Regions from separate parts of the Homo sapiens genome. Here regions 2 and 3 are each reported to be linked to region 1. The links are microRNA targets in miRTarBase. Many come from high-throughput screens and were not tested one by one. Region 1 holds a microRNA gene; each other region holds the end of a gene's coding sequence. Distances are from middle to middle.

Region 1 (5,000 bases):
TAGGCATGTGCCACCATACCTGACTAATTTTTTGTATATTTAGTAGAGACAGGGTCTTGCCATGTTGCCCAGGCTGGTCTCAAACTCCTAAGCTCTAGCAATCCACCCACCTCGGCCTCCCAAAGTGCTGGGATTACAGGCGTGAGCCACTGCGTCCAGCCCTTCAAAATCTTTTTTTTTTTTTTTTTTTTCCTGAGACAGAGTCTTGCTCTGTTGCCCAGGCTGGAGTGCAGTGGCGTGTTCTCAGCTCACTGAAGCCTCCACTTCCTGGGTTCAAGCAATTCTCCTGCCTCAGCCTCCTGAGTAGCTGGGACCACAGGCGAGTGTCACCAAGCCTGGCTAATTTTTGTATTTTGAGTAGAGGCGGGGTTTCGCCGTGTTGGCCAGGTTGGTCTCGAACTCCTGACCTCAGGTGATCCACCCGCCTCGGCCTCCCAAAAATGCTGGGATTACAGGCATGAACCACTGCGCCTGGCCCAAAATTCTTAAAGTATGCTTTCCATTCCCTTGCACACATTCCTGTTCTATTACTAATAAAATGCAATCATTACACAGTTGAAGAATAGCAAAATGAGTTCATGCCCAAAGGTAAAATAATTATATGCTCCAATTAATGAAAGACAAGTCACTTTATAATGACATCTGCCTCACCCTAAACACCATCTGTCCCCTTCCATGTCTCTTTTCTTCCAGTCCAAATTATCCAAGGAACATCTACAACTTTGTCTGATGGAGGCAACACTGCTAAGACTAAGTGTGAATATGCCACACACCAGGGAAAGTAGTAAGTTGTATAGTTATCTTCTAATTGGGGCCTAATATCCCTACCCCACAACAATACAACTTACTACCTCACCCTGGCATGAGCAGAATCCTCTAATAAGGGCAGCAGGCAAAAGGCCATTTTACATGGTGACAGACTCTTTTAAAGATCTTTTGCTAGATTAAGGGTACCAAGGCATCTACCCTACTTCACTGCTTTAAAAAATATTGTGCAGGCTTTGGTACAATCATTTTCCAACTCAAGTGCGAAAGGAGACAGGTGTAGGGAGGCAGAAGAATGTTCTGAGGAAATATGGGTGGGGGAGACATATGATATCACATGAACCAACTGATAGAATCACAAAATGGCTACTGACCATTGTTAAGAAGATCAGAGGGAATAGGAAACATACGGCAGTCATACCACTAAGCCCAGAGAGCTACCTTCATGAACAGCACACTATCCAAGACAATGTTCCTAGACTTTTAGATTCCATGGACCAATAAAATTTAATTAAAAAAAGAACAAAAAGTAGAGACTAATGTAGGGGTTGCCAACTTTTAGTTTAGCCATGTAAGAAAAAACATCCAATCAACATCATTTAATAAAAATATTTTGGTACCACAGAATTAGGAATATGATCTCTAAATACAAAAACAGCCTTTTAAATGGAATAAATTCAGCTTTATGAAAAAGGCATTAAAGCTCCTTGATTTTGTTCGTTTCCACAGAGGACTGGCATTTGAGAACCACTGTCATCAGTTATTCTCATGAAGTGCCACACCATGGTGGTCATCAAAGGACCAGCCACTTCAAAGATGTACATGAACATGCTGTTTCAGAGGACAGAGTTGCAGTCAGGAAATGAACAAGACACATGACCTCATTACCCATGCCAGAACAAAGTAGATAATAACCAGAACAAGAACCTGAACAGAGCCAGTCGGAGAAGAAGTGTACCACCGTGGGAAAGACAGTAGACTGTATAGTTATCTCCAAGATGGGGTATGACCCTAAAACTATACAATCTACTACCTCATCCCACAGAGCACCAGTGTCCATCTTCAGCCTATGTGGGCCAGCTACTCGGAACTATCAGGATAAAGAAGCAACCAATTGATTAGTAAGAAGGGAGAAAGGGAAGGAGAGTTACCTGAGAGATTCTGTTCAGTGGAGTCATTTGACTTAGATGCAGTACACTGCAAAAAGAAGGGATAGACCAATGTGGGACTTTGCAAGCACCTAAGATAGAGGTCAACTGTAATAGTCACCATCCTCCACCCAGACCATCTAGGAGTTCAGTGATCTAATGGAGAATGCTTTGGCCATGTGACCAAAGGAAGGTGATCATTTCACTGTGCAAATATATGACCAATTTCTCTATACATACTCAGGTTCAAGAATTGTTTGGGGCTGAGGGGGAAATAAATATGGAAGGAAAGGATAATAAAAACCCCTTAGGGATGGGCACGATCATGATCATTCTAGCAAGAATTTCTTGGTTTCATCTATGTATTTTTTCCCTTCATGGGGCTTATTTTTTATTTTGTCCACTCTAGTCTTTTCAGTCACAGGCTAGGTTCACTTATTTTTCATCCTATATCAAGTTTGAAACAATGTGTGTATTAGGTAAAAAGTTCTATATAAAGATATTTGTTAGATCAACCTTGTTATTTTAACTGAACACTTCACTACCCTTATTTTTAATCTACCTGATTCCTTAACTGCTGAGTAGGGTATACTAAAGTCTTTCACTCTCAAGTCTTATTTCTTTGTATTTCTATCAGTTTTTCCCCCTTTTATATCAAGTGATACACTGTAATGTATAATTCTATCAACATTTACTCAGACATTTAAAAGATCTCTGTCTGAGGTCCCAGAAGTTTCAGAAAAAAGTAGGTAACTTCCTTCTAAACCAAAATTGTATTAGTGATTTTATACATGTGAGCCCTAGAAAAAATGACATGTGGTGATGGGGTTCAGAGTACAAACATTTTCTCTGATCTGACACCTAGGCTGATCTTACTCAAATGACGGAATGGGGTCATCTCGGTAAGATTCCCCACACTGGCAGTTCACCGACAGAAATGGAAGTGGGCGACTAAGAGCATGGACTTAGATAAGGTTTTTCTCCTTGTCTTGATGCTGTCCTTGGCGGTAGAGACTATGCAGTGTGACTGTTGAGTGAGAAGCCATTCTGCTTCTGGCTCCAGTTTTTCCCTTGACACTTGAGAAATCTCCCCTCTAGGTTTGAATTCTTTCCCCTAAAAACCAGGTCAATGTATGGTGAATTTGAAATAAAAAATTTCCCAGGTTCAACGTGAACGTTCTAGGATTCTTCAGTGATTCCTGGTGCCATGTGTATGCCAAAACCACATTACGGCAGACACAGTCAAAGATGAATCCTCCCAGCCCTTGGGAATCACCTGTGCACTCTGATCCCTGTTCTCCTTATCTTCTTTGCCTTTATCAGTTATCTTTGTTTCTTCCTCAGCCAGTTGTTTCCTGCGCTTCTCTCGCCTTTCTTCCAGCTCCTCATCCCTCAGGAATTCCAGGTGATTGACAATGGACACTTTAACCACTGTTTCAAAGAGGCAAAAATCAAAGGCTGCTCTGGTGGGGTCAGGGAGGAAGCCAAGAGGCAGAGCTTGTAGCCACAGAGAACCAGGGAAACAACTCTCCACACGTTTGCCCTAGCTCTGGAAGGCTCACTATTGCCCTGATAACCAAGCTGCCACGCACCTGAAACACAGTCATGCATGCTCTCAGCATCGAGAACTTTGCATTCTTCTGTCCAGCGGGTCAGGGCTGTGGGGATGCTGGACAGGGTTCCTGTAGGGACAGCAAAGGGGAATGAGATTCTTGGCCTTGTCAAGCATTAACTGATCCACCGATCCAAAAATTGCAGTATTTCCCTAAAAGGACCCAAGGTCTATCACAATGTTTAGAACATAACAAGTACCTAGAGACAATAAAGTTTTTGTTGCCCATGGCTAAGTCACTGAGTGGTTCTGGCTCCTATAAAATGGGGGTTTTCTATAGGGCAGACACTGTCTTGCTTTTCCTCAGCAGGGAAAAAGTAGAATCTGACAAATTCTACCCTCCCTTTCACCACACAAACTTGCCTGCTTGGCTGGTAGCTGTGCTCTGATCATGGAAAAAGTCATCCAGCAGCTCATCATCAGAACGGGCGATGATGTGGACGTCATCGTTGCCTACCAGGAGGCGGGCCCGACCCCGGCTTTGTAGGGGAAGGCTGCTGCTCAGCTGAAGGATGTCAGCAGCAGCTGAGGGACCAAGCAACCTGTAGGGTAATGGTGGGTACCATGATCACTGTTAAGTCCAGAGGTGCCCTGCAACCTGTTACCATGAGATCCTCTTCATGCATCCTCTATTAAATGCAGAACATGATTATAAACCTGATGATGTGCACACAAGTCTAAGTTATTTTTCTGAATACCACCCTGGTTTTGTACTTAAGTTGTATATTATTCCATAGTTCCTGGCACCAAGTGGGTGTCAATAAGCTCCCACGTGCCAGGCACTGCGTCAGGTCACATTGCCTCCACTACACCCTCTCTGTCGTCTGTACACCAACCATTACAACACTTATATGCCTTTCTTTTACTTCTTAAGATTGTTTGTCTCACTAAACTCTAAGCCTGAGGGCAGGGATCTTGTCCCGTCTATATCTAAAGTGTTAAGTGCTTGGCATGAGACACTTAATAATTGCTAAATACATGCGCAGAACTATTGACATAATTTGGTATTCCCCAAAAGGCTGCACTCCCCAAAAGGCTACACATGTAATCCACAAAGAAATGGAACAAATACCTTATTTGTGTGTATGACAAGAACATTAAGTGATGGACTATTTCCCCCAAGGTTAAGACAATGCTAAAGCACAGTGAAAATTCTTACAAGAGCTCCGATGAATCCAACAGATCTCTGTAACTCACCTCTGCAGTATAAGAGGAGGGTTGGGCTGGCGATTCCCAGGGTAGTGAACATGAATGGTGTGGCCAGTATTGGCCGTCAGCTGCCTTAGGGTCCTCTGACTGCGCCCGATGCCCTGGGTGAGACGAGTTGTTGAAGAGCCACTGCCCAGTGTCAGAGAACTGTGGTCTGCATGGCGCACCATCAGTGGATGGGTGGTAGGGATATTTCCTGGGGATGGGGGGATGTCTGCTGCAAGGACAATATGTAAAAGGGTCAGTGTCAAAAAGAAATTTCTTCC
Region 2 (5,089 bases), not on the chromosome of region 1:
TGAACAGTAGGTTTTAAAATGTATTCTGAGTAGTCTAAGCTTTATTATTTGAAATAGAATGTTTTAAAACAATTTATATTGTAATAACAACATATATTTTAGAGTTTTTAGAGTATAGGATTTATTAAATTGTCTCTTAAAATAGGGAAAATAAATTCCTCTTTGAGTTCTTGAATAATTGTTCTATTATTTTCTTTGGTCTCATTTATAAGAGAGATTGTATTAGCAGTTGGAGTTCTAAGGAGTAGACTGCAGTGGACTTTTCAGGGCCAGTAGTGAGACAGAATAAAATGGTTTTAGGAAAGCCTTCTAATGTTATTATGCAACCAAATTGTTTAAATTAGGGAAAACTGTAATTTATTCATGGACCCTCTATAAATATCTGACTTAAATATTTTTTCTCCTAGCTATTTATTTGCCAGTATCACATATGGCTGGCAGCGGACACAAGGGGTATCTTGGTACTGATACCTGGAAACCCTATGCTCAACATCATTGTCAGCACTTTCATATTTGTTTGTGTGGCACATGAAATTTCTCAGATCACTAATGATCTTGCACAGATTATTATTCCTAAAGATAACTCATCTCTCTTGAAAAGGTTGGCATGTATAGCTGCATTTTTTTGTGGACTCCTCATCTTATCATCCATTCAAGATAAATCAAAACATTAGGTTCCAAAAATTCTAAAAAACCTAAACTCTTCAGGCTACCTTTGTGTGTCTCTAGAAGAGAAAAGCATCTATCTGGAGATATAAATGTGTATGTAAATATAAACGTTTGTGGCAAGAGGACAGTTCTGTGACATCTGTTGAACATATGTGGTTGTATATATTGGAAATGTACATATCCAATATGAAATACTAAAACAAACAAACAAACAAAAAACCAGAATGCATTGTATAGGATTGCATGTGAAGTCTTTTCTACTGAATCTATATTTCCATTTGTAAGTGATTTTAAGTTAACATATGAAGGCAGGGAAATGATTACCTTTCCAGTAAAAAGTATAGATAATTTAATTAACTTAGTGACACCACCAAGTGTTTTGATATAACTAAATTTGTGGTAATAAGACTGTCTGCACCTGTATTCATTGTGGAACTTCCTCTTTCATTGGAAACTTTCTTACTCAAGAATGACGGCAGTATTGTTTTCTTATATGTGCAATGAAGTGGAATGATAAACAGTATGCCTTTAATTTATATGTGTTCTTGTTCTGATGTTGTTTCCTGAAATGATTTTTCTTCCTAACTGTGGTTTTCGGGTATGCAAGCCTAAATCTTTGTACACTTTGTCTCACAGAATAGTTCTGAGGCTCCATGACAGGGTTTTGTCATTGTTGATGTTATTGTTGCTTCGTTTTATAAAAAAGCCAAAATTTTTTTTCCAATCCAAACGTTCACCTGTTTCCTTTCCTCAAGCTATACCAGTGTAATACCAGTTACCCTGTGGATCCATTTAATATGTTATCCCCACTAATTAATTTTCGTATATTATTTCCAATATTTGGAAAGCTCTTTATAGCCATTTGGTATTTCCTATTACCCACCTCCTATTTTAAATATTTATCAGTCTAAACTTGTGCAGTGTAGTAAACATGCAAGTTGTTACGATTGAGCTGTATTACCATAAGTAGAATTTTAAGTAAACTGGTGAATTTGGGCAATAAATGTTTTTGCTTTTTGTTTGATTTTTTTTTACAAGCTAACTGTTAGAGGTATACATTTATTTATCTGTTGTACAGATTTGATTATGATTTTAATGTTTGAAAGATTGCACTTGTTTGCTTTTACTATATGTGGGGTAAAATATATTTTCTGTTCACAGTATATGAAAATATGGAGTAATTTAAACAGTAAATAAACATTCTGTGGATGCTTATTTTTGTATTGGCAAAGTATCAATTAAACTATATGTGTTCTTTTTCAAAAATGCTGGATCCATTCATGATTGGTTCAAATATCTAATTATTTCCTCAACTTAAATTTGCTTTTTAAATTGCTTAATATGTAGGGGTAGGTTACCAAATGATAGTTGGATAAGGAATCATTTAGTTATCAGAGCTTCAGAGGGTCATCTGCTTTCCACCAAGGAAGTTTAAGCATTATGGTTCATTAGTGATTTTGCTTGAAGATTTTAAAAATGTACTTATTATTTATTTAGCACTGGATTTATGTGCTACTGATATACCTCCATTAATAGAGGAATATTTCTTGGACAGAGATGTGTGTTCTTTCCTTTTCTCTCTTCTTTTGCCCTTACTTAATCTTTTGACATTTCCCAGATAGACAATTGTAATGATTCATTGCTCTGCCTCCTAGACTGCAGCCTTATAAGTAGAGAATAGTATAGTTATAAATCAAAAACTTCCAAGTACTGTGATCACATTATTCTTGTTCATGTAGCTTGCCAATGAGTAGAGTGCATTTTAATTTAGCTTGTAAGTTTTATCACCTGAAAAAGATTCTTCTTGATGAAACAATTGAAAAAGAAAGATGACCAGTCTCCCTGTGTATTTTGGAAGCACTTATGTCTTCAGTAGGGATGCCGCAGTGAATATATGCTTTTCTCTCCTATTTGAACTGAAGCCTAAAACTTACCTGGTGAGCCCTGTTTCTTCATCACTTGTTCTTATTTAATATAAAGCACTATTTTTTACATATAATTATATAATAATCTGTATAATTTAAAAATAATTTATTTGTAGTTAAAAATATTTTTTATATTTGATTTTCTTAATTAGTCTTAAAAGGTTATTGTGGAAGTTGCCACAATGATAGCACCTATATATACGGTAAATGTCTTAATATTTTATTTTCTGCATCGACTCAGATACTGACCATTTGCATTACTCAATCATACCATTCTTTAGAATAAGATTTTTAACAGGATGTTTAGATATGCTAAAGTTGAGATAAAACCACAGAGGTTCTCTAAATTCAGATTTTTCTGTAATAGAAATCACAGTCAGAAATCTACCATCTGGCTTTAAAAGGTACTTGCTTGACTGAATTCTACCTCAATCGTTCCTCCTTTCCTTTGCCAAAACTTCCCATTTTTGTGGGTAGCCAATAGAAGCATTAAAAATTCAGCCCATCTAAATTAATAATGTTTTACAAGGATGTGGGACCCAAGTTCATTTATTATTCTATTCTCGAATGACTTTATACTAAAACCTTAAAACGGGAATGCATCCTGGATATAGTCATTGATATCATAAACTGGATGTGTTCCATGGCTTGCATTGCAGACAATTCAGTGTTTTGTGTAATGAATTGGATGTACCACATGGGAGTCTGTTGCATAACAGGAGATTAGGTAGTATTGTACTTACAGATTTTTGGAACAGTTGAAAGAAATTCAATTCTTCACATCATTCAAGAGAAAAATTACCTTTTTAGCTTAATAGTGAAGACTGAAATAAAGATTGACAATTTTGGTTGGCAGTTCAATCCATCTTACCACTTTGAATATTTCTCTGCAAAGACATTCAAAAATGATTGCATACATTTATGACTTAATTTGTTCATTCTTGTGTTCATTCCCCAAATCATAATTGTGATTTGGGGAAACTTATTTGGCAAGGTGTATTCTGGCTCATTTTCTTATTCTAAAAATGGTTTCCAGAAAAGGAAGTGGTCGTCCAAACTATATTCCCAAAATTGTGGTGTTTGATGACTGATTTCCAGAATAGATTTCTTATTTTATTTAATTAATTAATTAATTTTTTGAGGCAGGGTCTTACTCTGTCACCTAGGCTGGAGTGCAGTGGCGTGATCTTGGCTTACTGCAACCTCCGCCTCCTGGGTTCAAGCAATTCTCCTGCCTCAGCCTCCTGAGTAGCTGGAATTACAGGTGCCTGCCACCATACCTGGCTAATTTTTGTATTTTTAGTAGAGTTGGGGTTTCACCCTGTTGGCCAAGCTGGTCTCCAATTCCTGGCCTCAAGCGATCCACCTGCCTCAGCCTCCCAAAGTGCTGGGATTACAGGCGTGAGCCACTGTGCCTGGCCTGATTTTCTGATTTTAAATCTTACAAAAATTTAATGGCACTATTTGTTCTGCCTTTCCATATTAATAGTCATAGTAGAAACAAGGAGACACAAATGGAAGCTATTTAACTGGCATTCAATGTGGTACCAGAACCTAAATATAACAATATTGGAATACCCAAATTCTGTATATATGTCTGTGTGTGTGTGTGTGTGTGTGTGTGTGTATGTGTGTGTGTGTGTGTGTATATATATATGTATATATATGGAATAATTTCTTTTACAATTACGCAGACATTTATGTTCAAAAGTAACCATTATGAACAATTTGGGGGAAATATGAAATGGAATAAAATACCCTTTGTCTTTCAGGGATTCAGCAGTAAAATTGTCCTGAGCACCTGACATTTTACATCTTAGTAAAAAAGATACTAAAATTGTTTTGCTTTTGTTTTGTTTTGTTTTGAGAGGCAGTCTCGCTCTCTTGCCCAGGCTGGAGTGCAATGGCGCAATCTCGGCTCACTGCATCCTCTGCCTCCCAGGTTCAAGCAATTCTCCTGCCTCAGCTTCCCAGGTAGCTGGGATTACAGGTGTGCACCACCATGCCTGGCTAATTTTTATATTTTTAGTAGAGACGGGGTTTCACCGTGTTGGCCAGGCTGTTGTCGAATTCCTGACCTCAGGTGATCCACCTTCCTCGGTCTCCCAAAGTGCTAGGATATAGGCGTGAGCCACCGTGCCCAGCCAAAAATGTATTAAAATTCTTATTTGGAATTCAAAGTAAAACTAAGAAAAATGGAATAATTAAATGTATTTTCCCTTTATTTTCAAATTAAAATATCTTCAATATTATACATGCCTATGTTATATTAAAAGCTTATACTATCATTCAGTAAAAATAAAGCTTGATTCTATATCTGGCAGTTTTGTTGGTTTGTTTTGTTGTTTTAATTCTTAGGCTTTGTCTTTCTCTTTTCTATCCATCCTTAGTACTTGATTTTTGACTGTAGCTCTTTCATAAGTAGGTTAGTATTTGTTTTGTTTTTAACAAGTCACAGGGTCAAAGTCCTGCTGATAGACGGAATGAATATGCCT
Region 3 (5,089 bases), 100 Mb from region 1:
TGCAGAAGTTTGGGCACAGCCTTTACTCTTTACTTCTTTCTTGTGTTTTAGATCCATCACTCGCGCCTACTACAGGAACTCAGTAGGTGGTCTTCTCTTATTTGACATTACCAACCGCAGGTCCTTCCAGAATGTCCATGAGTGGTTAGAAGAGACCAAAGTACACGTTCAGCCCTACCAAATTGTATTTGTTCTGGTGGGTCACAAGTGTGACCTGGATACACAGAGGCAAGTGACTCGCCACGAGGCCGAGAAACTGGCTGCTGCATACGGCATGAAGTACATTGAAACGTCAGCCCGAGATGCCATTAATGTGGAGAAAGCCTTCACAGACCTGACAAGAGACATATATGAGCTGGTTAAAAGGGGGGAGATTACAATCCAGGAGGGCTGGGAAGGGGTGAAGAGTGGATTTGTACCAAATGTGGTTCACTCTTCAGAAGAGGTTGTCAAATCAGAGAGGAGATGTTTGTGCTAGTCAGTTCTTTTATTTCCAAAACATGCTCTCCTACTTGAACTGAAAAGTAAGAGAAATAAATAGAATCTTTGTGTAACTGATGAGAACTCAACCTCCATTTGGATACCAAGTGAGCCTCCCTCTCAGGGGGACTCTGACAGACTCGTGTGCGGGTGGATGGGGGTGCCTGAGTGCTGTGACCAAGGGACTGAATTGCTGACATGGGCCAGGCCAGGCACTGTTTTGTGGCCCATGCTAGGCAGTGGCTGCTCCATGAGCCCTTTGTGGACCACATGTTAAAGGCCTGGGGTTTAGGAAGCTAAGTCCCAGGAAAACATACCTACAGACAGGACAACTGTTCCTTGGTATTTGAGCTCACTTATAGGCCATGAACATAAAGAAATACATAAAGGGGAAAAAAGTTTCACAATGGGGACAATTAGCATAACTAAACAAAGATTATGAGCTCTACTTATTCCGTGAGAATACCCTGCACCAAAGGTGTTTGCTGGGTTTGGTTAAAAGGTACCAATTAGCTTTTAACAGCTTTCTGTAAAATGAGGAACACAGACCAAAAGGTCTGGTGTTCAAGTAAAAATGATGTGACTATGGAAAGGAAGGCAATCGACACAGTTATTAGCACATTTCAGAAAATGAACACCCTTGTGATAGAATTACCAGCTGTATGAAACAAATTGTCCCATGCAAATTACCCTATAACTAGGAAAGAGACACTATAACCCAAATGCCATACCCCCTTTTTCCTTTGACCATGCCTGGGGTTTCAATGCCTTGGCACCTGCAATCTGGAAGTAAACAGTCTGCTTGCTTCTTCAGGCACGTGACAGTGACAACACAGTGACTGCCTCTGAAAAGAGCCCTGAGGCAAACACTCTCTCCTGCTGAACAGGAGGCACTGTAACCCTTACAAACAGCTTACAGTTACTTGGGCTACTTATTTGATCATCATAACAGGCCTACGAGGTTTTTGCCCCATTTTACAGAATAGTAAACTAAGAGCCATGAAAATCACTTGGCCAGGGTCAAGGACTCGTGACTCCTAGCTCTTTTCACTGCATCATACTGCTGTCAGATGAATAAATGATTATGAATTTGTTTACTTGGGAAGAGATATGACTATAAATAAATGTTCTCTACATGTTAGGATATGTTTTCCTTATTGATTACAACTCAGCTATAATCCTGAGGGAACATGGGAAGGAATCAAAGGTAAAGCCCATTCAGGCATTATTGACAAGAGGGCTTTAAACAAGTGAATAATTGCACAACTAAAAAGACATTAGAACTGTGTGGGCTATAAGTGTTCTTATCACTGAGACACAGTGGATTTTTATTGAAAGGAACCACGTACAGCAATGCGGAGTGGGATAGGGATAAAATACCCACCCCAAAATGACCTTGGCCACCTGTCTGCCATATACGTACACTGAGTTCCTGTCTACCCAAGAGAGTCAGCCCTTAATTCTCAGGTGAACAAACAGCTAACTGCATCAGCAAATTGGAATGGCTGGCTTGAAGTTTCCATTATTTTCTTGAAGAGAGGTGATGCTTTAAATTACTTTTTGGATTGTAGCCAGTTCAGCTAGGCAAAAGCCATACTTTTCACAATTAAAAAAAAAAACTATTCTGACTAGAGTCAGGTTTCTCATATCCATTGTGATAGGAAGGCCTAAGAATGGCAAATCGCTTTGAGATATAATATTGAACTTCAGTATGAATGTGACCGAATCTGAAACTTTGGGAATTTGCTTTAGCCAGAATAAAGAAACCAAATCATGAAAATTATGGAAGACTATTCTGCCACCTGTGCCCCAAGTTGGATGAGCAAACCACTTTGGATCAGTTCACAGCATTAACTACAAGTGAACTGATCATCTTCTCTATATTCATTTCACAAGAGCTGGCTTAGGTGGGGTAATTAAATTGCCACCTTCGTGGTTGTAAAAGACAAACAAAACATGGCAAATTTCATTAACACAAAATTTCATCAACTGCTATACTGAATTATGTTTAGAAGATTCTGAAAGCAAGATTATCCAGTGGGTAAATGAGAGTCGACTGGATTCTGTCAGTTCAAAAAAGGAAAGAAACAAAACTTCCCTACAATTTTCTTCACTAAAATTTATTATATGTACAGTATTCCCACTCCTGGCATTTTCTGGCAGGTTTAAAAATATTCAGCATAAATCCAGCAGAGGTGGCTGAGCTTAATTGCTTAAATAAGTTCTAGAAAATTTAAAAATCATTTTAGTAGAATTCAGTACCATTGTCACTGCAATAAGTGGGTTTTAGAAAATAAGTGTGAAAAGAATCAGGTGTTAATATAATACTAAGGATAAAGCTTTAGAAGCTATTTTACTACATAGGTAAAGAAAAGATAAACTAACTTGTAACAAAGACCACAACTGCATGTTGGATTAGATTGTCTCATATTTCAGAATAAAATGTACTGTATACTTTTCCTCACTTTGTTGTGCACTGTAATGAAATGTGAAAAATGCTTTATTTAGCTGTATGTGAATGAAAATATGCTTGTATTTAGTAAAATGATTGATTATGTGACTGTGAGATTCCAAGTGTGTGTTATAGCTATTTCCAGAATCTGTTACTACAGCGTAGCAACTACTACCAAGGATATCAATAAGATGTGACATATACCATACACAATCGTATTCACCATTACCTTAAAGCCAGAAAGAGAATATAATTTTTGAAAGTTATCTGACCATCATATCAAAAGTCCCTGGGACCTCAATACTTCCTGGTGAGCATATGCCACTTTGAGAAAAGTTGGTTCTGTCAAGCCTAAATCTTCATCATGATGATTTTTAATCAAGAGTCTTAATTCTGTTGCCAAGTAGTTGATTACAACTATTATGTTCCCTGGAAAGTCTTCTTTTTTCCAGGCTAAGTTGCCTCAGCTTTTTCAAATCCTACTACGGCATGCTTTTTATGCCAGGATCACTTACAGTGTGGCACCAACATAAGAACACAATAGTTCAGCACATTTCCCAGGATTGATAGTACACATGAGGGTGGGGGGAGGGTTAAAAAAAAAAGGAAAGATAATGGATTCTGAGTCTGGGCATAAGTAGATAGGTAGCCTAAGTTCTGTACAGCTTTATCACATTTATATTAATTCTCTTATAGATTTAAGAGACGTGGCTCCAAAAGTCATTGCTGACAGCTCAACCTAGAGTCTTACTCTTTAGTCTTCCCTGGGTAACAATAAAGTGTAGGGCACACAGAAAAGGGAAAGGAAACTTACAAGGAGACAATGAAATCCTGGAGAGTACAGTTTTATAGGATGGTGTGAACAGTAGTATCAAAATGCAGCAGTCGATTCAGAAAGATAAAAACTAAAATGAATCCGCAAGATTTGAGAGAACAGGAAGTCATGAGTGGCCTTTGCCGGCATAGTGTTGGTGGAATGATTGCTGCCTATATTAAGCCTCTCAGGAACTTGGTGTTCTCAGTTCTGTCAGAGGACCAATTCTCTTCTCTCTTTCTTCTCTCTATCCTCTCCTCTCCCTAGACAATCTTACCCACTCTCGTGACTTCAGTTACCATCTTTCCATTGCTGATTCCAAAATCAGTAACTCTAGCTCACTTTTCTGAACGTTATATCAATACAGCCAACTTGCCTACTAAACAAAGCCACAGATTTCTCAGACTCAACATATCCAATACTAAAATCAATGTCTTCAACGTCTATCAAAATGTGCTCCAACAACCCCGGTCTTCCTCAGCTCTATAAATGACACCACCATTCACAGAAATTGGGAGTTATTCTTAATTCCTCACTCCCCCTCATTTCTCATATCAAATCCATCATCTAGCACTGTCAACTCTAACTTCAAAATATGTGTCTGACCCTGGGCAACACAATGAGACCCCATCTCTCCTAAAAAAAAAATAGCCCAGCATGGTAGCACATGCCTGTAGTCCCAGCTACAAGGGAGGGTGAGGTGGGAGGATCACTTCAGTGAGCTGTAATCACACCGCTGCACTCCAGCCTGGGTGACAGAGCAAGACCCTGTCTCAAATAAATAAACAAATATATAAATAAATATATGTACGTGTGTGTGAGTGTGTGTGTGTGTGTGTCTGCCACTTTTCTCCATCTCCATTGATACCACGTTTGTCCAGGCCACTATGAACTCTTACTTCGCTATCTTCCTAACTAGCCTCCCTAGTCCTTGTTCCCACTCCCATGATACATTCTCAACCTAACAGCCAGAGTGATCTTTTCACAACGTAAGTCAGATCAAGTAATTCCTCTGATTAAAACCCACTGATGGTTTATTGTCACATTTAGAACAAAATCCAAATAAACCCTACATTTCTTAACATGGCTACAAATCTTACTCATCTTGTTCACCAGTATTTCTCTAACTTGTAGCAAGTTAGGTGCTTGAATCATCTATACATACTTGAATGAATGATTGTTTTCTTGCTCTACTTTAATCCAATGACCTTGATTCTTACTTCACATCAGTAAAATACACACATGTCCCTATCTTGAAGCATTACCAAATTTTATACAGCCTCTAGAGTTCTGATTATAAGTTCTGGTTGCTCACTCTCTCCTATGAGACCTGCTTTTAAATG

The links. The annotated mature microRNA hsa-let-7f-2-3p reads CUAUACAGUCUACUGUCUUUCC and lies in region 1 at 1,731-1,752, opposite strand. An mRNA with a match to its seed (bases 2 to 7 or 8) in the 3' UTR can be bound and repressed. Matches are read on the target gene's strand: a 7mer-m8 pairs with bases 2 to 8, a 7mer-A1 pairs with bases 2 to 7 and ends in A, and an 8mer does both.
Region 2: the mRNA of CASD1 is a reported target of hsa-let-7f-2-3p. The part of its 3' UTR that is shown has no 7-base or 8-base seed match.
Region 3: the mRNA of RAB39B is a reported target of hsa-let-7f-2-3p. Seed matches in the 3' UTR shown: 7mer-m8 at 2,928-2,934.

The regions. Positions count from the first base shown.
Region 1 is chrX:53,555,466-53,560,465 of GRCh38, forward strand. MIRLET7F2 (microRNA let-7f-2) reads right to left here and starts at 1,809; the gene lies at 1,727-1,809. HUWE1 (HECT, UBA and WWE domain containing E3 ubiquitin protein ligase 1) reads right to left here. Exons shown (of 84, transcript NM_031407.7): 56 at 4,723-4,951; 57 at 3,889-4,067; 58 at 3,506-3,595; 59 at 3,190-3,344; 60 at 1,917-1,962. MIR98 (microRNA 98) reads right to left here and starts at 876; the gene lies at 758-876.
Region 2 is chr7:94,555,085-94,560,173 of GRCh38, forward strand. CASD1 (CAS1 domain sialic acid O acetyltransferase 1) reads left to right here. Exons shown (of 18, transcript NM_022900.5): 18 at 408-1,935. The coding sequence ends at 674. LOC105375404 (a long non-coding RNA gene) reads right to left here and starts at 3,411. Exons shown (of 4, transcript XR_007060433.1): 1 at 3,338-3,411. RefSeq lists an enhancer at 1,026-1,075.
Region 3 is chrX:155,256,192-155,261,280 of GRCh38, reverse strand. It overlaps RAB39B (RAB39B, member RAS oncogene family), which reads left to right. Exons shown (of 2, transcript NM_171998.4): 2 at 52-3,046. The coding sequence ends at 478. Among named protein-coding and RNA genes, the nearest start is that of RAB39B, 5.8 kb to the left of the region's middle.